Homo sapiens: one gene and its partner. The protein of the gene in region 2 interacts with the protein of the main gene of each other region in a pairwise test. Each region holds a gene or a part of one and is shown on either strand. Other genes may lie near its edges.

What was found.
Region 1: the proteins of SLC35F6 (region 2) and FOLR1 interact in binary tests that used the Homo sapiens proteins (3 or more experiments, as listed by UniProt).

What each region holds. Positions count from the first base shown.
Region 1 is NC_000011.10:72,180,678-72,195,139, reverse strand, and holds the start of FOLR1 (folate receptor alpha precursor), read right to left. Parts: upstream 3,001-14,462; 5' UTR 2,967-3,000; coding exon 2,799-2,966; intron 1-2,798. UniProt on the Homo sapiens protein: Binds to folate and reduced folic acid derivatives and mediates delivery of 5-methyltetrahydrofolate and folate analogs into the interior of cells. Has high affinity for folate and folic acid analogs at neutral pH.
Region 2 is NC_000002.12:26,755,549-26,771,025, forward strand, and holds the start of SLC35F6 (solute carrier family 35 member F6 precursor), read left to right. Parts: upstream 1-8,735; 5' UTR 8,736-8,801; coding exon 8,802-8,878; intron 8,879-15,477. UniProt on the Homo sapiens protein: Involved in the maintenance of mitochondrial membrane potential in pancreatic ductal adenocarcinoma (PDAC) cells. Promotes pancreatic ductal adenocarcinoma (PDAC) cell growth. May play a role as a nucleotide-sugar transporter.

The DNA of each region.
Region 1 (14,462 bases), on a different chromosome or scaffold from region 2:
GCTATTGGGACCTCTTTAGGGGAGAGGGCCGTCAGAGACAGTGGGAGCCCAAAAGGGAGCTCCTGCTGGAGTTGCAGTCATTACAAAATTTGTTAATTCAACCTTTATTGAGATCCTACTTACTCTCACCCAGGTACTTTTGTAGAAACTGGGGTTACAACAATGAACACATCACCTGATTTTTGCTTTGGACAAAAATTAAGCAGAGACGGATGGGGACTTGTAGTGTAATAGTGCGGTCAGATTAAGCCTCACTGAGGTGTCAAAGATTTGAAGGTAAAAAAGCAATTTAAATTGTAACCCCAGGCTGGGTGCAGTGGCTTACTTGTGTAATCCCAGCACTTTGGGAGGCCAAGGCAGGTGGATCACCTGAGATCAAGAGTTTGAGACCAGCCTGGCCAACATGGTGAAACCCCGTCTCTACTAAAAATATAAAAATTAGGCCGGGTGCGGTGGCTCACGCCTGTAATCCCAGCATTTTGGGAGGCCGAGGCGGGTGGATCACGAGGCTAAGAGATCAAGACCATCCTGGCCAACATGGTGAAACCCCGTCTCTACTAAAAATACAAAAAATTAGCCGGGCGTGGTGGCTGGCACCTGTAGTCCCAGCTACTTGGGAGGCTGAGGCAGGAGAATGGTGTGAACCCGGCAGGTGGAGCTTGCAGTGAGCCGAGATCATGCCACTGCACTCCAGCCTGGGCGACAGAGCAAGACTCCATCTCAAAAAATAAACAAACAAAAAACTAGCCAAGTGTGGTGGCGGACACCTGTAATCCCAGCTACTTGGGAAGTGTTTTGTCCCTGACTAGCTGCCTCACCCATTATCTGTTTGTGGAATTTGTGATACAAAAAAACAATGTATAGCCAATCAATTGTGGATGTTATTTTATTATAAGTTATTGAGAAACAACTTAGGAACTAATCTTTTTCCTTAAAAACTAACTTGTGATGGCTGCAAAATTCAGGACAACTTGAAACTATGCTCCTGTGTGCCTATCCTCAAGCTTCCTGAATCTCATTACTTAAGGCTGACAAGCTAAATATTAAAATGTGGGCCGGCACAGTGGCTCACATAGTGCCTGTAATCCCAGCACTTTGGGAGGTGGAGGTGGACAGATCACTTAAGGTCAAGAATGGAGACCAGCCTGGCCAACATGGCAAAACCCCATTTCTACTAAAAATACAAAAATTAGCTAGGCATGGTGGCAGGTGCCTATAGTCCCAGCTACTCTGGAGGCCAAGGCAGGAGAATTGCTTGAACCTGGGAGGTGGAGGTTGCAGTGAGCTGAGATTGTGCCACTGCACTCCAGCCTGGGCAACAGAGCAAGACTCCATCTCAATAAATAAATAAATAAATAAATAAATAAAATGTGCACTTAAGGCCGGGCGCAGTGGCTCACACCTGTAATCTCAGCACTTTGGGAGGCCAAGAGGGGCGGATTATGAGGTGAGGAGTTCGAGACCAGCCTGGCCAACATGGTGAAACCCCCATCTCTACTAAAAATACCAACAAACAAAACAAACAAACAAACAAAAAATTAGCTGGGTGTGGTGGCGTGTGCCTACTCAGGAGGCTGAGGCAGGAGAATCACTTGAACCTGGGAGGTGGAGGTTGCAGTGAGCTGAGATTGTGCCACTGCACTCCACCCTGGGCAACAAGAGCAAAACTCTATCTCAAGAAAAAAAAAAAGAAATGCGTATTACAAGTTTCTCTCCCTTGCCTCCCTCCCTTTCCTCCCTCCCTTTCCTCCCTCCCTTTCCTTCCTCCCCTTCCTTCCTTCCTTTCTTTCTTTTTTTCGTTCTTTCTTTCTTTTGACAAGGTCTCACTCTGTTGCCCAGGCTGGAGTGCAGTGGCACGATCTACAATCTCTGCCTCCTGGGCTCAACTGACCTGCCCACCTCAGCCTCCTGAGTAGCTGGGACTGCAGGCATGTGCCACCACACCTGACTAATTTTTTTTATTTTTTAGTAGAGATGGGGTTTTGCCATCTTGCCCAGGCTGGTCTCGAACTCCTGAGCTCAAGTGATCTGCCCATCTCGACATCCCACAGTGTTGGGATTACAGGCGTGAGCCGTAACACCTGGCCTACAAATTACTTTTCCTCTGCTTTTTCTTTAGTTATATCATCATGTTCAGGATATTAAAGGGGTGGTAGCAAAATAAATGTTATAGGGAGACCTCAGGTCCAATGTGGTCGAGAGACACAGCCCAAAGTTTTGCGAGATGCATGAACCAAGATGCTTCAGGAGGGCGTACGGCTCATTTCTGTAATCCCACACTTTGGGAGGCTGAGGTGGGAGGATCACTTGAGTCCAGGAATTTGAGACCAGCCTGGGCAACATATGGAGACTTTGTCTCAGGAAAAAAAAAAAAGAATGCTTTGCACACAGCCTCATAATGTGAGAGACTCTCCCTTCTTGAGCTGTTTAGGGCTGGCAGAAAAGAGGCCACTATGCACAGTGTGCAGTTTCTTCCCTCAGATCTTTGGAGGAGTCATTCCCAGTCTAAATCCCTAAATCAAGCAACCCCAGGATGGGTCACTCCAACTTCATTTCCCAGGCTCTCCTTTGGGCCTGCTTCCTTATTTCTGTAATGCGGAAACTCAACAACCAAGAAGGTGAACTGTTGGCATTGTACCGACATTTGGCACAGTGTCTGTGAAATAGTCACCCATATTAATGCAAACTGAAGGGCTCCTCCACTTCAGTTCACCAGTGAATGGGGTTTGGCATTTCCATGTCCTCGTTTCCTCTTCCTGAGCCAGTCCCTCACCACCCCAGATCACCCCCTGGCCCACCTGCTCATGCAACTTGTCCTCGGGGCCTGGCTTTTCCTTGTGGTGCTTGGCGTTCATGCAGACATTGAGAAGCTCAGTCCTGGCCCATGCAATCCTTGTCTGAGCCTCCCCTACTACAGCCACCCACACTAGAAGGAGCAGCAGCTGTGTTGTCATCCGCTGAGCCATGTCTGTCCCTGAAGAAAGAGCTGTGGTCAGTGGCACCAAGGAATGCGGAGGTGGGGCCTTAAGTTGTGTGCAGGGCTCCAGGAGGGTGGGGCCTGGACGGAAGCCTGGGGCAGATAGAGCCCTGCCCCCATCTCCCTCAGTTTTCCCAGATCCAATGAAAGGTAGGATTAGACACCACCCCTCCCTGGCTTGAGCCTCATTGCCTTCTCCAGGTGGTCACGAGGTTCAGGTGATATAATTCAAGGATGGATTTGGGCAAAATGCAGAAATAGCCAGGAGTTTGCCATAGGTCCACAATGCCTTATTCAAATGTTTCAGGGTTAAAATTTTTTAGGATTTCATCAAAGGTGATTCAAAGAAAATATAATTTTCATATACCCAATAATCAAGTGTATATTCTGGGGTGAAACAGTTACACTAGTGGGATAAATTAAAACTATACATAAACTCACATTAATTTTCAGGTCAGATTTTGACACCAAATTACTTCATTGTAAAAGTTTACAAAAATGGGCTGGGCGCGGTGGCTCATGCCTGTAATCCCAGCACTTTGGAAGGCTGAGGTGGGTGGATCACCTGAGGTCAGAAGTTTGAGACCAGCCTGGCCAACATAGTGAAACCCTGTCTCTACTAAAAATACAAAATGAGCTGGGTGCGGTGTCGTGTGCCTGTAGTCCCAGCTACGTGGGAGGCTGAGGCAGGAGAATCACTTGAATCCAGGAGGTGGAGGTTACAGTGAGCCAAGATTGTGCCATTGCACTCTAGCCTGGGTGACAGAGCGAGACTCCATCTCAAAAAAAAAAAAAAAGTTTATAAAAATGTTTTAGTTGGGGGGGCTGCAGTGTGGTTTTTGTTAGTTTGTTTTGCTTTTTAAACCTTGGTCCCAGCCCCTTTCTAGCCTCATCACTCAAGCTAGTTTAGTAGGCCCTTCCCGGAAACCATGGGATCTTGGTGGGGTGGGGTCACAGGACATGGGTGCTGGCAGGGGACAGCCAGCTGGACAGCCCTGGGGCCTTGGGGAGCTCCTGTGCCCCCTACCACAGAGCTGGCTTCTCCTTGGTCATCACAGAACTTCAATCCTTTGACCTCAGACACTGAATTTTGGGAGGCGACTGTTTCCTTCACTCCACTGGACACCAGGTGTCTGGGCCCTCCTAAAATGCTCAGAATTTATTTCCTATGACTTCTCTCCATCTGTCTCCTCTAACTCATCTTCCACATACCAGTCGCTAAAGTGGACATGCCTTTCCCGCTCACAAGCTTGCCTTGCCCCCGTGCTGCCCCTCCTCTCCTCTTGACAGGGCCTCCTTGACAGGGGTCTAGGCAGGGCCTGAGCTGGGCTGTCTCCAGGCCGACTGCACAGCAGGGCTCATATAAGCCTGGAATTGAATTCCCACCCAGCAGCTCTCTTTCCTGCTCCACAATCCATTACTCTGCTACTCTATTGATTCCAGTGTTCATTCACTCTCTCATGGTTGATTCATTCATTCCAGGATCCAATCATGCCCCTGTGGACCTGCTCACTCACTAACCTTGAGGGCCACGCCGGAGAAATCTGTACTCTCAGGGAATACCAGGTGATCCTTTGGGTTCAGTTCCTGCGGGAACAAACCCTAACTGTTTAGAGCACAGGGTTCCCGTTCAACCTGTCCCGACCCCAGCCCTCACTCCACCTTCTCCTTGGCCTTGGGGGAAAGAGAAGCAAACTATCTTGAGGCTTAGCTTTCTCCTGCAAGGATTAAATGTAAGAAGGGGGAAATCAACAAATGATAGCCAGTTTAATCTTTGTGGAATCATTTCAGCACAGATGAGGGCCATGCCCCAAGTCACACAGTAGGGACCACCCAAGTTCAGGCCAGAGCTCTTTTGGCCTTTGCCCCCTGCACCTTCAGAGTGCTGAGGCTCTCATGGGTGCGGCCAACACACAGTGCTGGGGATGGGGGCTGAGAAAATCCTTTCCCCAGCCCCCAGTGGAGCCCACCTGTTCAGTCAGTAGTCTCTCTTGCTGTGGCTGCTTCTGAAGCCAGGCTCTCTTCCTGTCCTTTTGAGCAGCATCACTCTGCAAGCTCCTTTCCCACCTGCCTAGTCTCACCTTCAGGTCTTAGTCCAGCTGTGACCCCTCCCCACCAACAATCATGACCCCCACACCCAACCTTGGGGCCCCAGACTAGAAGAGCTGAGAACTCAGCTCTGGACTGAAGGGCTAGAGCCCAGGTACTAGTTCAGGGGGATGAACACTAACTTGTCGTTTAACCTTGAGCAGGCCACACTCTGGTCTGGGCCTCAGTCTCCACTTCAAGATTCTCTGGCCTTCAGGCAAACAGAGGGCCCTTCCAGTTCAGAAAATCCTTAACACATGGTGGGAATGCCATAGGGTGTGTGGCCTCTGAAGGGGGATGGGGAGTGTCACATACCTGGGAGAGGAGGTGGCTCTCCGTCTGGCTCAGGCTTCTGCTCTGCTCTACACTCCCCCTTGCCTTATTCCAGGGGACAGCTGTGGTTTAGTGGCCTAGGAGACAGGCAGGGAGTGGGAATGGAGCCCAGGAGTGGAGCCTGGGATTGGGCGAAGGCCACTCAGCAGTTAATTATTGTATGTGAGCACCAGCCAGGCCTCCATGGGGTAGTGGGAGGGGGTGAATTAACAGTGCAGGCCTAAGGCCAGTCCCTAAGCTCCACCTACCCAATTTTTTCCCAAACACTGAGGTCTGAAAAAAATCTTGCAGCCTGAGCTGCCAGGATCCTTTGAGCTAATCTCATCAGTTTCCAACCCCTCTGTCCTGTTAGGCAGATGAGGAAAATGAGATCCGGAGGATCAAGGCAAGGGCTAGAGCCCAGGCTTCCAACCTCCCAGTCAGCTATAGAGAGCAAGGATCTCCCAAGGCCATAAATTGTAGAGCCACCAACTCCCCCAACCCCATTAGCCCAGGTGTCACCCATCACCAGCCACAAAATCACAGATGTTCTGAATCTTTTGATCAGATCTTCAATTGTTTGAAGGGCCAAGCTCTCCTTCCATCCCCAACTCATGGACCCCCTCTCCCGGCAACTCAGGTATCCTTTCTACAGCACCTGTGATTCTGGGCTAACTCTTCCCTCCATCTCCACCCCAGTCAATGACAGAAGCCTTCATTTTTTTTATTCTCTGAGCCCATGGTGGTACCACAGATGGGAAAAGGGAGAGGGAGGGGCAGGTTTGGGCAGGAAGAAACATAGAACACTGTTTTGTCGAGGTGCCTGTGTGCCCTTGGCCCGGGGAAGGTGGTTGTAGAGGGGAAAGCTCAGGGGAAGAGTCCAGGTTGGATGCAGATGTGGGAACCATCAGACTATGAGTGGCAGTAAGTGTAGGGAAAATGGGGGCCCAGTAATCTGGGCAATGCCACAAGAAAGGACCCAAGGAGGAGGCAGGCAGGGGAGCCTGAGAAGACAGTTGGATCTCTAGAGGAAAATCAACCAAGAAGGAAGGCTCTCTAGGGCCTGCAAGCAGACCAATTCCCAGGAGATCCCAGCTTATGTCCTGCAACAGTGAGCCATACCTGAATCTTGTGACAACCTGAGAAGTGTCAACTTAAAATCACCAGATCTATATATTTGGAAACAATATTTTTTCTTATGTCAGGTTGTAACCTGCAGGCTGGTAAGTGGAGCCTTTGGCTGAGACCAAAAGCAGGCAATTTGAGGGAGGAAGGGTGGGACAGGAGTTTTATGTAAAATGGGTTGGCTAGCATACATATTAATGGGTTATAGGAAAAGCTATGAATGTTCATGAAAGGGAGCCACATGCATGTATACTAAGCAAACATACATGTTACATACATCTTGTGTTCACTTTGGGGTTGAGATTTAACATTAATTTTTTTATTTTTTCATTTATTTATTTATTTTTGAGTCGGAGACTTGCTCTGTAGCCCAAGCTGGAGTGCAGTGGCACGATCTTGGCTCACTGCAACCTCCGCCTCCCAGATTCAAGAGATTCTCCTGCCTCAGCCTCCCGAGTAGCTGGAATTATAGGCGCCTGACACCATGCCTGGCTAATTTTTGTATTTTTAGTAGAGATGGGGTTTTACCATGTTGGCTAGGCTGGTCTCAAACTCCTGACCTCAAGTGATCCGCCTACCTCAGCCTCCCAAAGTGCTGGGATTACAAGTGTGAGCCGCGGCACCTGGCCTGTTTTTTTTTTTTTTTTTTTTTTTTGGGCAGAGTCTCACTCTATCACCCAGGCTGGAGTGCCGTGTCACAATCTCGGCTCACCGCAACCTCCACCTCATGGGTTCAAGTGATTCTCCTGCCTCAGCCTCTAGAGTAGCTGGGATTATAGGTGTGCACCACCACACCCAGCTATTTTTTGATATTATTTCTTAGTAGAGATGGGGTTTCACTGTGTTGGCCAGGCTTGTCTCAAATTCCTGGCCTCAAGTGATCTGCCCACCTTGGCCTCCCAAAGTGCTGGGATTATAGGTGCGAGCCACGGCACCCGGCCTATTTATATTTTTATTTAAAAATAGTGAAAGAAGGCTGGGTGCAGTGGCTCATGCCTGTAATCCCAGCACTTTGGGAGGCCGAGATGGGCGGATCACCTGAGGTTAGGAGTTCGAAACCAGCCTGGCCAACATGGTGAAAACCCGTCTCTACTAAAAATAAAAAAATTAGCTGGGCATGGTGGCGCACACCTGTAATCCTAGCTACTATTGGGGGCTGAGGCAGAATTGCTTGAACCTGGGAGGCAGAGGTTGCAGTGAGCCAAGATCACACCACTGCACTCCAGCCTGGGCAACACAGCAAGACTCCGTCCCCCGCCCCCGCAAAAAAAGAGAGAGACAGGGTCTCACTATATTGCCCAGGCTGGTCTCGAACTCCTAGGCTCAAGCAATCCTCCCACCTTGGCCTCCCAAGGTGCTAGGATTGCAGGTGTGAGCCACCATGCCCAGCCAAGACTTAACCTTAAAATGCAGTCTTAGGCCTGGCATGGTGGCTCGCGCCTGTAATCCAAGCACTTTGGGAGGCCGAGGCGGGCGGATCACGAGGTCAGGAGATCGAGACCATCCTGGCTAACATGTGTTATGGTGAAACCCTGTCTCTACTAAAAATACAAAAAATTAGCCGGGTGTGGTGGCGGGTGCCTGTAGTCCCAGCTACTCGGGAGGCTGAGGCAGGAGAATGGCATGAACCCGGGAGGTGGAGCTTGCAGTGAGCCAAGATGGTGCCACTGCACTCCAGCCTGGGTGACAGAGCGAGACTACGTCTCAAAAAAAAAAAAAAAAAAATGCAGACTTAGGCTGTACACATCAAAAGGCGAAACATAGGACACAAAGGCACTTTGTGTGCCGCCTCTCTAAATTGGCCAGAACCACCCCATGGTTAATAGGAATTGATCAGGAAGGAATGCTTTGTGAGCTGGTCAGCTGTCATATCAAAATCACAAAAAGAGGCCGGGCCCAGTGGCTCATGCCTGTAATCCCAGCACTTTGGGAGGCTAAGGCAGGTGGATCCTTTGAGCCCAGGAGTTTGAGACAAGCCTGGGCAACACAGCAGAACTCCATATCCACAAAAAAATACAAAAGTTAGCTAGGCATGGTGGTGTGTGCCTGTAGTCCCAGCAACTTGGGAGACTGAGGCGGGAAGATCACTTGAACCCAGGAGGCAGAGGCTGTAATGAGCCGAGATCATGCCATTGCACTCCAGCCTGGGTGACAGAGCCTGTCTCAAAAAAAAAAAAAAAAAAAGAGACCCTGTCTCCAAAAAAAAAACAAAAACAAGAACAAAACAAAATAAAAACACGAAAAAAAGAGGGACGTCTGGCCACAGCATCAGGTGGTTGAAGTTGAAATCAGCAGGATTCTTCCATCTGTTTTCCAGGACTGGTTTCTTCTTAACTGTTAGGAAAAAAGTCGGTAACAGTAAGGAAGAGGGTGTACTGGGGTGTGACCAGCCTCCTGTCTTATCATAGCCAAGAAACTTAGATTTTGAAGTTTTTGTGGGGTCTCCTTGGCCAAGATGGGTTTGTTCAGTCAGTTGAGGGGGCTTTGATTTTCTTTTCTTTTCTTTTCCTTTTTTTTTCTGAGACAGAGTCTCGCTCTCTCACCCAGGCTGGAGTGCAGTGGCGTGATCTCGGCTCACTGCAACCTCTGCCTCCCAGGTTCAAGCGATTCTCCTGGCTCAGCCTCCTGAGTAGCTGGGATTACAGGCACCCACCACCATGCCTGGCTAATTTTTGTATATTTAGAAGGGACAGGGTTTCACCATGTTGGCAAACCTGGTCTTGAACTCCTGACCTCAGGTGATCCACCTGCCTCGGCCTCCCAAAGTGTTGGGATTACAGGTGTGAGCCACCGCACCCGGCGGGTTTTCTTTTTATTTCACATTTCCTCTTTTTAGCTGAGATCAGCCACAGGCAGCATCAATGGCAAAATTTGTATCATGTTGTTGCCAGGATGGTGAGGTTGCCTGCTCCAGGTCCATCCAGTCCTTTGGTGGGACCCTTGTGGCCAAGAGACTTATAGCCAATTGAACTCTGGCCAGACAGGAATAGAGGTGGGCAGACCTCAACCCCTAAGGTCTATCAAGCAACATAAAGGCCAAAAGGTAGGGCTACCAATTTAACTTGTCTATAAGATCTACGCATTGAGCCAGCATAATTCTGGTTTTAGCAGCAGACTTACAGCAGTTGGTTATACATATTATAGGTAATTAAATGTTAAGAAGAAAAGGTTAATGGAGACTATTACTATAACAAGGACTTGAATGGCATCTTGAAAGGAACTTCCCAGTGTGGTAGAAAGCCAACTAAATAGGTAATTGATGGGATCAGTAGTTCATACATCTTGTAACCATTTAGCTTGTTTGGAAATTCTTTTTTTTTTTTCTTTTTTCTTTTTGAGATGGAGTCTCGCTCTGTCGCCCAGGCTGGAGTGCAGTGGCACAATCTCAGCTCACTGCAACCTCCGCCTCCGGGTTCAAGCAATTCTCCTGCCTCAGCCTCCTGAATGCAGCCTCCTGATTACAGGCATGCACCACCACACCTGGCTAATTTTTGTATTTTTAGTGGAGACAAAGTTTCACCATGTTGGCCAGGCTGGTCTCGAAAGCCTGACCTCAGGTGATCTGCCCCCCTTGGCCTCCCAAAGTGCTGGGGTTACAGGTGTGAGCCACCATGCCCGGCTGAAAATTATTTCTGTATGAATTTCTTTTCCTTTTTTGAGACAATCTCACTTGGCACCCAGGCTGGAATACAGTGGCGTAATCTTAAATCTCCACTCTCTGCAACCTCCCCCTCCCAGGCTCAAGCAATTATTGTGCCTCAGCCTCCTGAATAGCTGGGATTACAGGTGTGTGCCACCATGCCCAGCTTTCTTTTCTCTTTTTATTTTTATTTTTTGAGACAGAGTCTTTCTCTCTCTCCCAGGCTGAAGTGCAATGGCATGATCTCTGATCACTGCAACCTCCGCCTCCCAGGCTCAAGCAATCCTCCTGCCCCAGCCTCCCAAGTAGCTGAGACTACAGGTGTGTGCTACCATGTCCTGTTAATTTTTGTACTTTTTGTAGAGACAGGGTTTCCCCATGTTGCTCAAGCTGGTCTCAAACTCCTGAGTTCAAGCGATCCTCCGGCCCCAGCCTCCCAAAGTGCTGGGACTACAGGCATGAGCCACTGGGCCCAGCCCTGTATAGTTTCTACTTCACTTGAAATGTTGATGTAAGTGCCACAGATCTTAGGGACCACCACACAGACTCTTCCCTGTTTGGCTAAGAGAAAATCTAAGGCAATTAAATTATCTATTACTACTTGAGCCAGGGAATTCAGAGACTTTGTTGGGCTGGAAGGCTTTGTGCAGTATCTCCAGCTACCTGTTCAATAGTGGCAGATAGTTTTGAATGTGCTGGTCAAGTTTTGAATTAGACTCCTTCAGTTTTGAATTAATCTCATTTAAGGAGGTTATCTGAGATTCCTGTGTTTAGAACTCTCATAATACCACTTAAAAATGGTCTCCCATGGGAGGATTCCTTGAGTCCAGGAATTTGAGACGAGCCTGGGCAACATGGTAAAACCCTGTTTCTACAAAAAAATTAAAAATTGAAAATAAATTAGCAGGGTGTGCCGGTGCATGACTGTAGTCCCAGCTACTTGGGTGGCAAAGGTGGGAGGATGGCTTGAGCCCAGGAGGTCGAGGCTGCAGTGAGCCGTGATTGTACACAACGCTCTAGTCCCCGTGACAGAGTGAGACCCTGTCACACACACACACACACACACACACACACACACACAAAAGGGCCTCCCATTGCTTCTCAGAGGTCTAGAACTCTCTCTGTTCTCATTGTGCCTACTAATAAACGAATTGAGGCATGTCAAACGTTCTGTCAAAAGATCTCCATTTTGGCATATAAAGCTTTTAATTGTTCCAGGTTAGCTTTTTCTAGGATCCCAAATATTCACAAGACTTTTTCTCATAATTCCGAAACATGTAACTTCCTGATGGCAGCTGGTCAGGGACTGTCTGTCCCCTTAGAACCTAGGTTCCCCATAACAGCATTTACTTAAAGACGTCCCTGCGAGTGCCACTAGAGGGCAAGCATCCTCACCAAACCTGATGGGCCGGATGAGTCAGGCTGAACTGCCCCCAACCTCCCCCACTAGAAACCCAACACAGCAAAGATAGCCCTTGCAGGGTCTGGATGGAGAGGATCAGAGAAAAAAAATGAAGTCTCTGAAATGTCAACCTAAAACCAGGAGATCTTAGATCAGGGAGAGCTTACCCACCTTCCTCCCAAAGCTGTCAGGGAGACAACTGAGCTGTCAATGGCTCCACCAGCCACCAGTGCATTCACTCACGCTGCGGGGAGCCTGGGCTGCTCTGTGGATCCTACTCTTGTCTTCAATTATATTGGCTTAAAATCACAAGATCTTTACATTTAGAAAGGAGAGCTTTCTTTCTTTCTTTTCTTTTTTCTTTTCCTTTTTTTTCTTTCTTTCTTTTTTTTTTTTCAGACACAGTTTCACTCTATCGCCCAGGTTGGAGTGCAGTGGCACGATCTCACTGCAACCTCCGCCTGCTGGGTTGAAGCGATTCTCATGCCTCAGCCTCCCGAGTAGCTGGAATTACAGGTGCCCACCACCATGCCTTGCTAATTTTTGTATATTTAGTAGAGACAGAGTTTCACCATGTTGACCAGGCTGGTTTCAAATTCTAGACCTCAAGCAATCCGCCCGCCTTGGCCTCCCAAAGTGCTGTGATTACAGGTGTGAGCCACCTCGCCCAGCCTAGGAGAGCTTTATTTCTTATGATGTGCAGGCTGGGAAGTGGAGTGAGGGTAGAACAAGGGTTTTATGCTAAAAGAGTTGGCTAAACATACATATTTAATAGGTTTTAGGAGAATCTATGAATATTTGTGATAGTTGCACACATGTGTACTAAGCAAACATACATATTACATATGTCCCATATTCCCTTTGGAGTGGAGACATTAAAATGCAGTTGATACCGGGTGCAGTGGCTCATGCCTGTAATCCCAGCACTTCAGGAGGCTGAGGCGGGTGGATCACCTGAGGTCAGGAGTTCGAGACCAGCCTGGCCAATATGGTGAAACCCCATCTCTACTAAAAATACAAAAATTAGCCGGGCATGGTGGCAGGCGCTTGTAGTCCCAGCTACTCAGGAGGCTGAGGCAGGAGAATCCCTTGAACCCAAGAGGCGGAGGTTGCACTGAGCAGAGATCGCGCCGCTGTACTCCAGCCTGGGAAACAGAGTGAGACTCCATCTCAAAAAAAAAAAAAAAAAATGCAGTCAAATTTGCCTCTGTATGTCAAAAGGGGAAACACAGGACCCAAGCACTTTGTGTGCTGCCTCTGTAAACCAGCCAGAACTGGTCCATGGTTGGGAGTCATTGATCAGCCAGGAATGTTTTGTAAGCTGATCAGCTGTCATGTCAAAATCAGGTAAGGAAAGGGAATCTGGCAGTTGGTTGAAATCGAAATCAGTGAAGGAGTCTCCTGTTCTTGGTTTTCCAGGGCTGGTTTCTGTTTAGCTCTTGGGAAAGAAGCCTGGTAACGGTTCGTGAGGAAGCTATCATCACGGCCAGGAAACTTGGATTTTAAAGTTTTTCCGGGGTCTCTTTGGCCAAGAGGTGTCCATTCAGTTGTTTGGAGGGTTGAGGATTTTATTTGTATTTCCCAGAGGGTTGAGTCCTCTTAAGACCTCAGCAGGTAGAGGCCTCTGGAACCCTCAGGCCTCTTTCCTTCTTTATACCCCAGTGCTGATGGGAGAAGGGCAGGCAGGTGTCTAGGAACGCCTGAACACGGGAGCTCCTCTAGATGGAGCTCCTGCCCTCTCATCCACTGCCCATGGCTTGGGGGCTGATCATGAACTGAACTTTATGGCCCCTCCACTGCAGGAGTGAGACCTGCTACCTGAGGCAGTTCCCTAGGCCATGAGGGCTTCAGAATAATACCAGCAAATGGAAGGTTGGGTTGGAGGTCAAGTTCAGTTCCTCTGGTAAGTCCTCACCACTTGTGGAGTCTCAGAGCCCTGCTCTGAAGGATGAGGTGGTGCGCCTATCTGGAGTCTGGGTGCTAGGGCCAGCAGGGAGGGACAGTCAGGCAGTCAGCTTGAACCAGTCCAGAGAGTATCTGCCTGAGCTGGAAGCTTAATACCACAAGGTTAACCATTGGCATTCCTTCTAACCCCAACCCGAAGGCTGCCCTAGGACCAGGCAGATAACAGGAAGGTGTTTGGCTCACAGAGGTGGAGACTCTGGGCTTCAGGAAGCAGGAGAGGGGCCTCAGAGTGGGGAGGAGAGAACCCTGAGGTCTTCCCTGAGTGCCAGCCTATCACACATGCAATCTCACCTCACTCATCTTCCCAGCTGCAGAAACTACTGATCTCAGTCCGATTCTAAGCCTGCCTTCTTTCACCTAGCAGTTGCAGGAGAGAAGCTCTGTGAGGGGCCCACAGGGCACCGTCCTAAGGAATGCAGATCCAGTGTTTCTTCTTTGGCCTTAACCGCTGCCCACTCCCCACATAACTTCTCTCTCAGCCACCCTGGAATTCTGCTCGCACTTCTATTACCTCTAAGCCTTTGCACTTGCTGAGACCTGTCCACGGAATGCCATTCCCCGTGCTGTTTTGTGCTTGGCAAACACTCCTTTGGAAGCCTTCCCTGACCTCTTTGGGCTTCAGCAGAATAACACCACACTCTGTGCTTCCCTCTGTGAAAGCCTCATCTCCTTGTTCTAAGAGTCACTGGTTCTCAGAACTGTCTGTCCCCACCAGACCTTGCAAGGAACTCAATTCCCTTTCTGTTGGCTGAGACCAGCATGGGCCAGTGAACTGGATGCTCAGAAGGACTTGTTGACTGACAGAATGGATGCAGCGATTCCTTAACTTACTGAGCACATTCTCGGTGCCAGGCACTGACCCAGACTCTGGGGATATAGCATAAAATGACACAGACACAGCCCTGCTTTGGGGAGAGTATGTTTTGTTAGGAGAAAGGCTGACAACAAACACA
Region 2 (15,477 bases):
CTGGAAGTTAGAGCCTGCTTGCAGGTAGCATGCAAATGTGTTCAAAATGTCCCCAACTTTGGGAGAAAAGGCTGGAAGTCTGGATCAAACTCGTATGCAAACCATGAGGAGTGCTTTTGAAGGCACAGCGGGCTAAGGGCTTTCTCCATACCCCCTATCTTGTGGGCTCTGGTCTTACAGCAGCTGTAGTAATTCTCCCCAGCAGGGCTTGCACTGCACTTCCACATCTGTCCTCTCTCTACACAAGCTATGAATGTCATTTCCATTTTACAGATAGGAAAGTGGGGCTCTGAGTGCTTCAGTGACCCAAACATTGTCACCTTGCTTAAAGTGGCAAACCCAGCCAGAGCCCTCCTCTCGCTTTTCCCTAGTTAGGGACAACTTGCGTAGGTGTCCTTGCATGTCTGAAGATTCTGCATTCTTAGGGATACATGAAGAAACTCCTATGTCCTCCCACCACCCCATTCACACTTGAGGATTCTGTGGCAGGTGCGCACTTAACAGTAAAATTCCTTCCTTTGCTAAAAATTTGCTGAATTCGCTCCCTTTCATGATCTGTAACTTTACATAAGCTGTTGTCTTTTATCAGCTTTAACAGATCAAATGTGAGCAATCGTCTGGGTGTGGTGGCTCACGCCTGTAATCCCAGCACTTTGGGAGACTGAGGTGGGTGGATCACCTGAGGTCAGGAGTTCAAGACCAGCCTGGCCAACATGGTGAAACCCCGTCTCTACTAAAAATACAAAAATTAGCTGGTGGCGGGTGACTGTAATCCCAGCTACTCAGGAGGCTGAGGCAGGAGAATTGCTTGAACCCGAGAGGTGGAGGTTGCAGTGAGCCGAGATTGCCCCACTGCACTCCAGCCTGGGCAACAGAGAAAGACTTCCTCTCAAAAAAAAAAAAAAAAAAGTGAGCAATCAGGAGACAATTGTTCTTCTGATGGCTGAGGTCACCATACAACCAAGGCTGACTGACGTTTCACTTTCTAAAGACTCAGAAAAGGAAGGAGAACCGTGTCCCACCTCACCCTAGCCCTTGTCTTCACTGACTGCAGGCCGCAGCCACCAGTTGGTTTCTCTGGGCTGTGTCCTCAAAGATACCAGGAATGCAGAAGGGTGGAGATACAGGCCAAGTGTTAACATTTGTGCTGGTTTGCAGATATAGTATTTTACCCAGGAAATCAGGGCTTACAAAAATATGAGGCAAATTTTTATCCAACGTACAGGTTAAGTTCTATCCCTAAATTCCATCAAATAATAATCTGATGTGTGAAAATTAGTAATTCAAAATTTACTACGCTGTTGGAACTTTAACATATATTGAGCCTTAAGGGAATATGATTATGAGGCCTGGGTCACATGACAGGCAGCTGTAACCTCTGTTTCTCCGATTAGATTAGCTTTTTTCCTTACCTACATTGTTTTGTAAAATGTAAATGACTGAAGGGTGCCAAGGAAGACCCCCTTGCTTCACTGTTGATCTTCATTACAGATTAACTTTTTTTTTTTTGAGACCAAGTCTCGCCCTATTGCCCAGGCTGGAGTGCAGTGGTGCGATCTCAGCTCACTGCAACCTCCGCCCCTGGGTCCAAGTGATTCTCATGTTTCAGCCTCCCAAGTAGCTGGGATTACAGGCACCCGCCACCATGCCTGGCTAATTTTTGTATTTTTTAGCAGAGACAAAGTTTCACCATGTTGGCCAGGCTGGTCTCAAACTCCTGACCTCAAGTGATCCACCCACCTTGGCCTCCCAAAGTGCTGGGATTACAGGCGTGAGCCACCGTGCCCGGCCATTACAGATTAACTTTCTATACAAAGACTTCATGACTATCACGTTGTCTAAGATGGGATGTTAAATACACTCCTCTCAATTGGAAAGGAAATAAAAAGTTGTAAAGAAAACAAGCTCTATGGAAAAGAAAAACTAACTGTTGTAACTCATAAACAAGCCTGTTGCAGAAAATGTTATAATCCTACTAAATGTATTTGTTTCCTGCCTATATAAGCTAAACCTTAACTTTTTTGGTTTTCCCCCAAGCCGACCAGGATGAGAAAGACCTTAACTTTCAACTTTGGAGCACTGGCCCCATTTCTCTGGTGCCTGTGTTTCTCAGGTGGTTACTCCCAGCTTTTCACTTGCATAAACTATTTAAAATTGAATTCTGAACCTTTTGATTATTTCAGGTGGATAGATAGATTTTGCAAAGCCTATGCATGTACATATTCACCCTAATTCTGTTACCGGAAAGGGGTCCCAATCCAGACCCCAAGAGAGGGTTTTTGGATCTCGAGCAAGACACAAGAATTCAAGGTGAAGCCACAGAGTAAAGTGAAAGCAAGTTTATTAAGAAAGTAAAAGAATAAAAGAAAGGCTAATCCATAGGCAGAGCAGTGGCATGGGCTGCTTGACTGAGTATACTTATAGTTATTTCTTGATTATATGCTAAACAAAGGGTGGATTATTCATGAACTTTCCAGGAAAGGGGCGGGGATTTCCTGGAAGTGAGTGTTCCTCCCCCTTTCTGACCATAGGTCACTCTTGTTGCCATCTTGGTTTTGGTGGGTTTTGGCCGGCTTCTTTACTGCATCCTGTTTCATCAGCAAGGTCTTTGTGACCTGTATCTCATGCCAACCTCCTGACTCATCCTGTAACTAAGAATGCTTAACCTCCTGGGAATGCAGCCTAGTAGGTCTCAGTCTTATTTTACCCAGCCCCTATTCAAGATAGAGTTGCTCTCGTTCAAATGCTTCTGACGATTCCTCTGTATTTTTTTCAGAATTCCTGTCTCTTTGGGCCCTGATACCTTAGCCTGGGGCTCACTGCTACCTGGAAGCACTAATGCAATCCTAGTTTTCTCCCCTAAAGCCCATTCTAGCCAGGTGGCAGGGACGTGGAGCCTCACTGTAGGTCACACCCTGGCGTGAAGGGCTGATCAGCCACCCCATGGTGTCCACATGGTTGTCTCTGCCTGGGGTGACCCTGCTTTCTGCACCTGGAGCAATCCTGCTCCTCCTTCAAGTCCCTACTCAGGTCTCCTCTGAATTCCAGTTCTACAGGGCTACTGTGAAAACCAAGGCCACAGAGGTCAAGCTTCAGGCACAGGCCTGACACAGGGCACCTGGTCCAGGACAGCTCTGATTGTCACTGTTGTCCCCTCTCCTTGCCCACTCCCTTAGGTAATCCATCCCTCCCTCAACCCCCTCTGTCTCTTACACATTCTCACATTGCTGCATGGTTAATGCAGTGTTGACCCCTCTCCTCCAATGAATCTCAAATTCCTTAAGGGCAGTGACCTTGTCTTGCTTCCTTAGGACCCCATATCTGGCTCTAGGCCTTAAACTTAGTGGACTCCACGGATATTTGCCAATAAACTCTGTCTCCTGGGATCCACAGACAGCAGTTTGATGAATGGTCAGGACATTGTGATAAATTAAAATTCATTGTTTGATGTGGCTATCGACACAGACAGAGACTGTGCTGCTAGTGACATCATGTCGGTCTGGTAATTAATAATGATCATTAGTAACGTTTACTTCAGGACAGTGCCCTTGGCCTGGACGTGTGGGGAAAATGGTCCAGAGCCTCACCGACTGAGTCACTGTGCCCTGTAGGAACGGCCTCTGATAGGGATGAGTGCCTGCTGCTGTGGGCTGCCCCAGTCTGCCCCTTGGGACAGAAGCTGTGTTTTATTCATCCTACATCTCAATAAACATTTTTTGATAAATCAATGAACTCCTTTGAAATCACACAAAACTAGAGGTGTTGTTGGAGACAAGCGGTTCAGAAGAGACCAGGCATTGTGGCTCAAGCCTGTAATCCCTGCACTTTGAGAGGCCAAGGTGGGTGGATCACCTGAGGTCAGGAGTTTGAGACCAGCCTGGCCAACACAGTAAAACCCTGTCTCTACTAAAAATACAAAAATTAGCTGGGTGTGGTGGTGTACGCCTGTACTCCCAGCTACTTGGGAGGGTGAGGCAGGAGAAGCCTGGGCAACAGAGCAAGACTCCATCTCAAAAAAAAAAAAGTTCAGAAGAAACCTCTTCTGGGTCTTCCAACTCCGCACTGACTGAAAGGAGAAGAGGCTCCAATTAAAGAAAATTCTAGAACATTCTGTGGGTCCCAGGCTTGTTCCACACTCACACCTCTGCACCGCTGTACATGCCATGTCCATCTGCAAGAAAGCCCTTCTGCTGTCTATCTGGGGACCTCCTATGTTTTTTCCAGGATCCCACTTATACACCTTCTCCAGCAGGTCTTCCTGCAATAAGGGAGTCTGGTGCAGCCCCTTGAGAGTTCTGCGTCCACTCTGGCCTTTTTCACAAGTTCGAGGCTGTCTTAGGGCAAGTAGGAGGAGTTGGCAGACAGGTCCTATCTCTGTACCTCTTGTTGATCTATTTGTTTAATTTAAAAAATTTGTGTGTGTGTGAGATAGGGTCTTGCTCTGTTGCCCAGGCTGAAGTGCAGGGGCATGACCACGGTTTACTGCAGCCTCAAAGTCCTGTGCTCAAGCAATCCTCCTGCCTCAGCTTCTCCAGTAACTGGGCTCACAGGCCCGCACTACCACCCCTGACTAATTTTTAAGTGTTTTTGTAGAGATGAGGGTCTGGCTATGTTGCCCAAGCTGCTCTCAAATTCCTGGGATTAGGAGGCCTCAGCCTCCCAAAGTGCTAGGATAACAGGTGTGAGCCACCACACGGGCCACCTCCTGTTCATCTAAAATGAAGTTGCTAGCCATCTGGGCGTGGTGGCTTACACCTGTAATCCCAACACTTTGGGAGGCCAAGGTGGGTGGATCACTTGAGGTCAGGAGTTCAAGACCAGCCTGGCCAACACGGTGAAACCCCATCTCGACTATAAATACAAAAAATGTAGCTGGGCATGGTGGTGCTCACCTGTAATCCCAGCTACTCGGGAGGCTGAGGCAGGGGAATTGCTTGAACCTGGGAGGCAGAAGTTGTAGTGAGCCAAGAATGTGCCACTGCACTCCAGACTGGACGACAGAGCACCACTTCATCTTAAAAAAAACAAGAAGGTGCCAAGGCACAAAATATAAGTTAAACAGTTTACTTGAGCCAAAATGAGGACAGCTGCCCAAAAGACTCAGACGCAAGTAATCTTGGATGTGAGCTCCCTTCTCTCTTTGTTACAAACAGGTTTTTAAAGGCAGAAAAAGGAGGACAGGGAGTGGGCTGATACAAAGTTGTTTGTCAGAAATTCTCATTGGTTTACAGAAATAACATTGATTAGTGATTGGCTGTACAGTGCTATAGGATGTAAGATATGGTGTCCAGTGCAGCATTGTTAGGTTATAGCTACCTGTGGCAATAGCAAGCAGTTTCAAGACATAAATACATAACTCAAAGTGGGAGTAGGACGTGATTGCTGTCTTATTTTAATGTCTCTCTGGGCCTGATAACTTACAGGACTCGCATTCCTCAGGTAAAAGTTCTTTTCTCACCACAGAAACAAGATCTGCAGCATAGGGGAAGTGTGTTGGCTCGGTCTGAAGTCGTTTTCCAAAGTGTCAGAGACATTTAAATCAGAGCAACTCCATCTTGAACAGGGGCTGGGTAAAACGAGGCTGAGACCTACTGGGCTGCATTCCCAGGAGGTTAGGCATTCTAAGTCACAGGTCGAGATAGGAAGTGGGCACAAGGTACAGGTCACAAAGACCTTGCTGATAAAACAGGATGCAGTAAAGAAGCCGGCCAAAACCCACCAAAACCAAGATGGCGACAAAAGTGACCTCTGGTTTTTCTCACTGCTTGTTATACACTATTTATAATGCATTAGCATGCTAAAAGACACTCGCACCAGCGCGCGACAGTTTACAGATGCCATGGTAGCAACTGGAAGTTAACCTACATGGTCTAAAAAGGGGAGGAACACTTAGTTCTGGCAATTGCCCACCCCTTTCCCAGAAAACTCATGAATAATCCACCCCTTGTTTGGCATATAATCCAGAAATATCCATAAAAATAACCAATCAGCAGCCCTCGGGGCTGCTCTGCCAATGGAGTAGCCATTCTTTATCCTTTACTTTCTTAATAAACTTGTTTTCACTTTATGGATTCCCCGCAAGGTGCCAGGTCCAAGAACCCTCTCTTGAGGTCTGGATCAGAACCCCTTTCTGGTAACAAAAGGATCTTGTCGCTGGCGTGACAGGGCATGGGTGCAGACTAGAGCACTGGGAAAGGCATATTAGGAGCAGTTTTTTCTTTTCTTTTTCTTTCTTTTTTTTTTTTTTTTTGAGATGGAGTTTTCGCGCTTGTTGCCCAGGCTGGAGTGCAATGGCTCGATCTTGGCTCACTGCAACTTCCATCTCCCAGGTTCAAGCGATTCTCCTGCCTCAGCCTCCGGAGTAGCTGAGATTACAAGCATGCACCCCCACACCTGGCTAATTTTTTGTATTTTAGTAGAGATGGGGTTTCACCATGTTGGTCAGGCTGATCTTGAATTCCGACCTCAGGTGATCCACCTGCCTCAGCCTCCCAAAGTGCTGGGATTACAGGTGCGAGCCACCGCGCCTGGCCTTTTTTTTTTCTTTTTTTAAGACAGGGTGTCACTTTGCCACCCAGGCCGGAGTATAGTGGCATGATCTCAGTTCATTGCAACCTCCACCTCCAGGGACTCAAGCGATCCTCCTACTTAGCCTCCTGAGTAGCTGGGATTATGGGTACTTGTCATGACACTCAGCTAATTTTTGCATTTTTAGTAGAGACTGAGTTTTGCCATGTTGCCCAGGCTTGTCTGGAAATCCTGAGCTCAAGCAATCAGCCCGCTTCAGCCTCCCAAAGTGCTAGGATTATAGGTGTGAACCACCACACCCAGCCAAGAGTAGGATTTTAAACACCAGAACCCCTTGAGGACTAAGCTCTGATTTTTTTTACCTTGCCCAAATTCCTACCTAAGAGGTCTGGAGAGTCATGCCCTACAAACCATAAATTCTCATCAGATGGGTTTTATTTAACCCTATATATCATGACTTACTTTCCAATCTGACTCTGGCATAATATTATGTGACTAAGAAGAAAGTCAAAAGATTTTACCCCAAAACATTTTTCTTTGCCATATCTTGAAATGGCCCTGCAAATCTGTCTTTTGTGGGGGAAAATTTGCATCTGTAAAGAATCTCTATTACCGGCCGGGCGTGGCGGATCACGCCTGTAATCCCAGCACTTTGGGAGGCCGAGGCAGGTGGATCAGGAGTTCAAGACCAGCCTGGCCAACATGGTGAGACCCCCCCCATCTCTACTAGAAATACAAAATTTAGCCAGGCGTGGTGGCAGGCACCTGTAGTCCCAGCTACTTGGGAGGCTGAGGCAGAGAACTGATTGAATCCGGGAGGTGGAGGTTGCAGTGAGCCGAGATCGCACCACTGCACTCCAGCCTGGGCGACAGAGCAAGACTCCGTCTCAAAAAAAAACAAAAATCTCTATTAACATAGATAGATATTTTTCCCGTTTCCTGCCCCACCCTCTCCCCTCCTCCCGGCTTTGAGTTGTCCTACCTTTCTGGACCAAACCAATGTATTTCTTAAATGTATTTGATTGATGTCTCGTGTCTTTCTAAAATGCTGCGCCCCGACCACTTTGGGCACATGTTCTCAGGACCTCCTGAGGGCTGTGTCACGGGCCATGGTCACAAATATTTGGCTCAGAATAAATCCCTTCAAATATTTTAGAGTGTGACTCTTCGTCAACACCCTCTTCAAACAAACCTAGGGATGGTCTTTCTGCCTGGATGCCTCAGCTGCGACCAGAAAGTCCACAAAGGAGCAGTGAAGCAGGGCTTGGTGCAGAGGCCATGCGGAAGGCACGGATTTTTGGAGACTGGAGAACCCAAGCGCAAATCCCTACCCCACTGCTCACCAGCAGGTTCTTAAGCAAATCACTCTGCTTCGCTGAATTTACTGTCCTCAGCTATAAAATGGTGTCCTCGGCAACTGGAGCTAGATGCCTTCGCCACTTTGCTGAAAGATATGAACTGTGCCCAAGGTGGGCGGTATCAGATAGGAGCCCCGAAGTGGAAACGTCCAGCGTGGGAATCTCCTCTCTACAGGGTCCCCAAGGAACTCCCGGCAGGCCCACTTCAGGGCTCCTTTCTGACACCGCCCAGCTCAACCTCTCAAAACGATTCACAAAATGCTGTAATAGCCACGATGCACCCTCACTGCACTGTCCCATCCGCCCCTTTTACAAATAGGAAGACCCAAAGATAAAAATAAGAAACCAAGGCCAGGCGCGGTGGTTCACGCCTGTAATCCCAATACTTTGGGATGCGGAGGAGGGCGGATCACCTGAGGTCGGGAGTTCGAGACCAGCCTGGCCAACATGGTGAAGCCCTGTCTCTACTAAAAATACAAAAAATTAGCCGGGCGTGGTGAAGGGCGCCTGTAATCCGAGCTACTCGGGAGGCTGAAGCAGGAGAATCGCTTGAACCCAGGAGGCGGATATTGCAGTGAGCCGAGATCATGCCATTGCACTCCAGCCTGGGCGACAGAGTGAGACTCCTTCTCAAAAAAATAGAAAAAAGAAACCCAAAAAGGCGGGGGAGAGTGAGGAAGAAAAGAAAAAAAAAACTGGAAGGCCTGGGCCGTGATTTGCCAGGGCCACGGCGTGGCCACCAAAGCGCTCCAGGACGACTCGGCAGAGCGCGGGCACCGTGGCTCAGGCGCGCTCCCCGGGGGCGGGGCGAGCAGGAGGGGTCACGTGACGCCCGGCCCGGAAGCGCTCGCGCAGGAGACCCCGGGTGACGGGGCCCGGCGCCGCTAACTGGAGCGAACCCCAGCGTCCGCCGACATGGCCTGGACCAAGTACCAGCTGTTCCTGGCCGGGCTCATGCTTGTTACCGGCTCCATCAACACGCTCTCGGCAAAGTGAGTCTGGGCCCTGCCGGGCGTGCGGGCCCTGGCGACCCCGGCGCTCGTTCTACGCCTTCCCCCTTCTTGGCCCTGCCCTCCTGGCTTCCCCTGCTTTCCCACTTGCTCCGGTCAGTTCGCGCGCGTTATGACCACCCAAGGGATGCGAGGCCCGGGGAAATGCGGAGCGGGGCTGCGCCCCGGACGGGGGGATCCGAGCCCCGGCTTTGATTTGCTGTACAGCCTCCGCTCCTGTTTCCACGTCTTTTAACAGGAGGGTTGGCCGATTCCTTTCCACGGCCCTTCCAGTGCTGGCGTCCAAGCCTGAGCACCTCCCTCCACGAGCTGGGAGAGACCCCTGGACTTGTGCACATGAGCCGCAGTAGTGGCTGTGCAGGCCGAGTGACCCAGTGAGCGTGGAGGCCTCAAGCGGCAGACAGGGAGGTGCCCCACGGCCCCTCAAGGATGAGGGGTTAGAGCTGTGCTTTGAAGCTTAGGTGGGATTTCGGAATGTGTCTGAGACTGTAAGTCAAGGAAAGTCTACGGAAAGGCCAGATCAAAGTCGATTGTAACCAGCATCAAATGCCCAGGTTAGATTTTCTCTCATAATCAGAAAAGTGCTTTTGAGCTGGGGAATGACATGTTGAAAGTGATATGATTGACTCAATGACATGAGGAGTGGTTTGGTGCAGGAAAAACCACTCCAAGGCTGCTGCATAGCAGATGAGGGGAACTAGGAGGTGGCAGTGAGAAGAGAAAGGAAGGGACAACTGGTGGCAGAGACCAGGTGTGAATGGCCACAGGCCTGACCCACATGAGCAAGAAACAAGGATCACTCCAGGGTTTCTGCCTGGGAGAAGAAAAGTGCCATTAACTCAGACAGAGAGGGCAAGTGGCCAGTTCAGCTCTGATGTATGGGGGTGAGAGGGGGGACAGTTCCCAGGAGGTTAGGGACTAAGGACCCAGGCAGTCATGAGACTGAGGGACAGGGCCTAGCCTCCCCTCTGTTGTGGGCAGGATGGCATTTCTTTGTCTCTCTCTGTCTCCATCTCAGGGCAGGGCCTTCCTGCCCCTCCTTTTCTTGTTGCCCAGGCTGGAGTGCAATGGCACGATCCCATGTATAAGGTACCTACGGTGTGTAAGGGAAGGGGACAGAAGTGACCAAGAGGCGATCTCTGCCTTTGAGATGCTTGGAATCTGAGGTGGAGGAGACAGACGTGTACGCACACGACAGTCACAGTGTTCTCCCTTCCCCAAACGGTGGGCACAGTCAGTGGAGTCCTGGGTGGGCCCCACCTGTTCCTCTGGTTCACCTCTGGCCAACTGTGCCTTGTGGAGAACTACTAGCTTCCCAGGCCCTGCATCCTCCTGAGGATCACTCCTCATGCTGAATCCTTAGCTGTTCAGAGGCCCCAGCCTGAGGGCTCCCATCTCAGGATCTGAACACAGCAAAGCAAGTCTTCTGTTCTGTCATGCCAGCCAGGGCCTCTGTCAAGTGCTTAGAGAGCGGTTGTAAGTCCACCAGGGCTGCTGCCCACAAGGAGAATCCAGATTGCCAGTTACTGCTGGGGTAAACTGTGCTGATTCACCTCCTTCCTTAGAAAACTCCAAACCAGTCAGGTAGGAAGCTTAGAGATCCTCAATCCCAGAAGGCGTCGCCTTTAAAGGCTGCCTGAGAGTCAGGAAAGAGGCTCCCAGGTGACAGACCCAACTTTTGGTCCTGTCCCCTGCCTGACAGCTGGTGTGGGGCCTCTCAGGATCCTCCCACCCCAAGATGGGCCCCCAAATTGGACCCTAAACAGTGTTCTAAGGTCAAACCACAAGAAGGGATACTCTTAGGGAGAAAGAACATGTGGGAGCAGCTGCATGCACCCCGATGTGAAGTATGGATTTGAAATCACATTTCTGGCCCGGCGCGGTGGCTTACGCCTGTCATCCCAGCACTTTGGGAGGCAGAAGCGGCTGGATCACTTGAGGTCAGGAGTTTGAAACCAGCCTGACCAATATGGTGAAACTGCATCTCTACTAAAAATACAAAAATTAGCTGGGCGTGGTAGTGCGCACCTGTAGTCCCAGCTACTTGGGAGGCTGAGACAGGAGAATTGCTTGAACCCGGGAGGCGGAGGTTGCAATGAGCCAAGATTGCACCACTGCCCTCCAACCTGGGTGACAGAGTGAGACTCGGTCTCAAAAAAAAAAATAAAAGGAAATCACATTTTTGACCCACGATTTCCAGCAGGCACAGACAGACAAGCATGTGCTGACAACTAGCAGAAGCATCTCATGCACAAAGAGCACCTCGCATGCCCCAGGCCCTGCTCTGCCCTTTCATGTGTGAACTCAGGGAATTCTCATAACCACCCTATCAGGCAAAGACAGGGGCTGATATTCCTGTATAAGGAAACTGAGGTAGGAAATGATTAAATTCCTTGCCCAAGTTCAACTTAGCTACTAAGTGGCAGAGTTTATAGTTGAGCCAGCATGGTCTGGCTCTAGCATCCATGCTCTTAACCACCACTGGAGGGTGTGGCTGGGGACTTCTCCAGTCATTTTGGGGTCATTTAGAGTTGTTAAAAGCATAGAAATCATCCAGTCTAATCCCCACAATTTACAAAGGAGGCCTCAGGAGAAGTTTCTTTCTGTGATTCAACTGTTTGGTGTCTGAATGAAGGCTGGAACCCAGGCCTCAGGACTTTAAGTCCTGTTCTTTTATGACTGTGATACCCCAGAGTCCCTCCTTCCTGGGAGTTTCCTCTCACAGCTCCCCAGGCCAGGACAGAGAAGCCTGTGCTTGTGGAAGTTGTAAACCTGTAAGTGGCATCTGCGCTCCCAGCCTTTGATGTGCCTCTCTCCAGGACTGGGCTGCCAGCCTCTCAGCCAGCCCAGAGACACTGCTGACAGGGTCCTCCCGCTGGAGTCCAGGCCACTCAAGGTTCAGACTGACAGCCTGTGGTTGTCTCTGGCAGTTTCTTGGCCTGTGACAAGAGTGATGTTTCCCTTCCCAGGTTCTTGGGAGGATGAAAGGCAGTGGATGAGGAAGCACATCTGAGCACGTGCTGCCTGCTGTGCTGGGGCGGCAGGTCAGCTTTCCTCTCTGCGGCCCCATCCCTGGGTCCTGGCAGGGGGCCCCTCCCTGTGAAGTGGCTTCTTCTTTCCCTGGCTGTTTTCTCAAAACCTCCTCACTAGCACCTTCTGTCGATCATCTTCTTTAGGCCAAGCCATTTCTGTCTACGTGAGCCAGTGCCCCATCCACAGGTACTCATTTCAGAACCCCAGTCTCCTGAATCCAACTGAGGTTCTACATATGAAGAGCCGGGGTCAGCTGGGCACTGTGGCTCCAGCTTGTAATCCCAGACTGGAGGCTGAGGTGGGATGATCATTTGAGCCCAGGAGTTCAAGATCAGCCTGGACAACATAGGGAGACCTCGTTCTCTACAAATAATAATAATAAATAATTAATTAATAGAGCCAGGGTCAAGTAGATGCTCACTAAGTAAGGCTCAGCTCCCCTCCTAAGTTCTGCAGGCTGTAGGGCCCTCCCAGCCAGGCAGGGATATGAGCCTGACTTCCTTTCATGCCCAGGCCAGGGACCCTGCCAAGAAGGTGGCAGGAAGCCTGGAAACCACTAGGCCTCTACTAGAGAAGAGGTGTTTGCTCTTCTTCTGTGTCCTTTCTGTGCCAGCTCCAATGTTTGCCCTTGGCAGCTGCCCCACCACCCTTGGGTTCCATGAACTGGCATGGGATAATTGCTTCAAAGGGGTTGTTGGGCCAGCTTGTGGAAGCCTTAACTCAGGAGGACAGTGTAGTAGAGTGGGAAGTTCATGAGGCTTGGGACCTGAGGAATAGATGAGCCACTGGACCTCTGTGAGCCTCAGTTTTCTCATCTGTAAAATGGACTTGGTGATCCCTGCCGTACCTTCTTCCTGGACACTGAAGATCTACTGAGGAAGGTTTCCTTTTTTTTTTTTTTTTGAGACGGAGTCTGGCTCTGTCATCCAGGCTGGAGTGCAGTGGTGTGATCTCAGCTCACTGCAAGCTCCGCCTCCCGGGTGAACGCATTCTCATGCCTCAGCCTCCTGAGTAACTGGGACTACAGGTGCCTGCCACCATGCCCGGATAATTTTTTTGTATTTTTTTAGTAGAGACAGGGTTTCATTGTGTTAGCCAGGATGGTCTCGATCTCCTGACCTCGCCCATCTCGGCCTCCCAAAGTGCTGGGATTACAGGCATGAGCCACTGTGCCCAGCCTTTTTTTTTTTTTTTTTTAAGACACGGTCTCTCTCTGTTGCCCAGGCTGGAGTGCAATGGTGCCATCTAGGCTCACTGCAACCTTGAGCCATCCTCCCACCTCAGCCTCCCAAGTAGATGGGACCACAGACACCCGCCACCGTGCCCACCTAATTTTTGTATTTTTTGTAGAGACAGCGTCTTGCCATGTTTCCTAGGCTGGTCTCAAACTCCTGGGCTCAAGCAATCCACCTGCCTCAGCCTCCCAAAGTGTTGGGATTACAGGCATGCACCACCACACCCAGCTTAAGGAAAGTTTTCCATTCCATGGAGATGAGAGGGCTCACCATTGTCACCTCAGGAGCCAGGGCCACCTGCTGTGGCACCCCAGAGAGTGGAGAAGCCTTGGCCCTTCTGTAGGTCCCAGGCAGGAGAAAGAAGGGGACTCACTGGGCTTGACAAGCTGGGGACACAAGAGGAAGTGGCAGAGATTCTGTGGGAATGGCCACAGCTAATCTGCCCAAGCCAGCCCCATCGCCACTTCCTCAGTCTGTTTTCGCCACCCCCGTTCACGTGGACGTGCACACCTCCCAGAATGCTGAGCTTTGAGTTTGGGCCTGGCCATGCTAGGGAGTGACTCACCACCCAGCACGGAGAGCCTACTCCCCAGCCTGCCCGCCAAAAGGAGCGGCCTCAGCTTGTCCCCGCTAGGACCCTTCGGGCCTCCTGCCCTGGAGGTCATCTCCCCTAGAATACAGTGTCTGTGGAGAAGACAGGCCCACCTACTGGGCTGCCCCTCTCCTCCCACCAGCTAGGGGAGCAAGAACTCAGAGGAGAGCTTCAGAGCATCAGGGAGGGGGCGCATGACTGCCTGCTGAGCTTCCAGTGTACTGGCCCTGTTTCAACATCTGAGGAGCCGTGAGCCCCTCGAGCCCTCTCTGGCCCCTGGGTTCCTGTCTGTCAAATAAGGAGTTCAGCTGATGGCTGAGTTTCTTCTGTTTCAGCATTTTGGCTCTGTGAACTGCAGGGACAATAGCCTGAGGTCCCTCCAGCCACCTCTGCCTCAGCCAGCAGGACAGGTTCCAGACGTTTTTCCAGTAGCTTTCAGGCTGAAGGGGAGCTGGGGCCACGCTGAACCCAAGGGGGAGATGGCTTCTGCTCAGTGAAGGGAAAGGAGAAGGGGCAGAAAATGAGTTTTGCTGAATACCTGCCATGTGCCAGGTCATGTATATATCCTTATATCATGTATTGCTTCTGACAGTTTGTCAGTGTTGGTATGATTACCCTGTAACTTGTCCAGCCTGTGGGACTCAAAACTCTGGGTTTTCTCTGTATTCTGCCTTTTCTGAGTATAAATTCAAGCAAGGTTTAACCCTGGATCTGCCTTAAGCCTCAGAGTCCCCATCTAAAATGAGGATCCTTGTTGTAAGGCTTAACGGGACAGTCCCCATGAAGTGTCCTATGAATTGTGCATTTAAGGAAACATGGGCTGGGTGCAGTGGCTCACACCTGTAATCCCAGCACTTCGGGAGGCTGAGGCAGGTCAATCTCTTGAGGCCAGGAGTTCGAGACTAGCCTGGGCAGCATAAACAAGGCTGCATCTTTGCAAAAAATACAAAAATTAGCCGGGCATGGTGGCCCATGCCTGTAGTCCCAGCTACTCAGGAGGCTGAGGTGAGAGGATCATATGAGCCTTGGGAGGCTGAGGCTGTAGTGAGCCGTGATTGTGCCACTGCACTCCAGCCTCAGTGACAGAGTAATACCCTGTCTGAAAAACAAAACAAAAAAACAAACGTTGTTGGCCGGACGCAGAGGCTTATACCTGTAATCCGATCACTTTGGGAGATTGATACGGGTGGATCACTTGAGGTCAGGAGTTCGAGACCATCCTGGCCAACATGGTGAAACTCCGTCTCTACAAAAAATATAAAAATTAGCTGGGCATGGTGGTGGGTGCCCGTAATCCCAGCTACTTGGGAGGTTAAGGCAGGAGAATCACTTGAACCTGGAAAGCAGAGGTTGCAGTGAGCCAAGATCGCGCTGCTACACTCCAGCCTGGGTGACAGAGGGAGGCTCCGTTTCAAAAAAAAAAACAAGAACAAAAACAAAAGACAACAAACAACAAACGTTGTGAAGAACTGACAGCAAAGTGCTGCCCACCTTAGGGGTCACTGCTGTCATCCCCAGGCAAACTGGGGCTGGATTTTTGTTCTAGCCTGTGAGGCTGGGGTCTTTTCTGATTCTGCGCCAGGAGTCGAAACCTGTCTCCAATCCAGGATGAGAAGCCTGGCTTTCTGCCCCAAGGTACCTGCAGGCCTGAGCATCTCAGGCTGGGCAAGGCAGCCCATGCTGCTGACACCCAATCCCTTGGGCTGTCAGCCTGCCCCAGG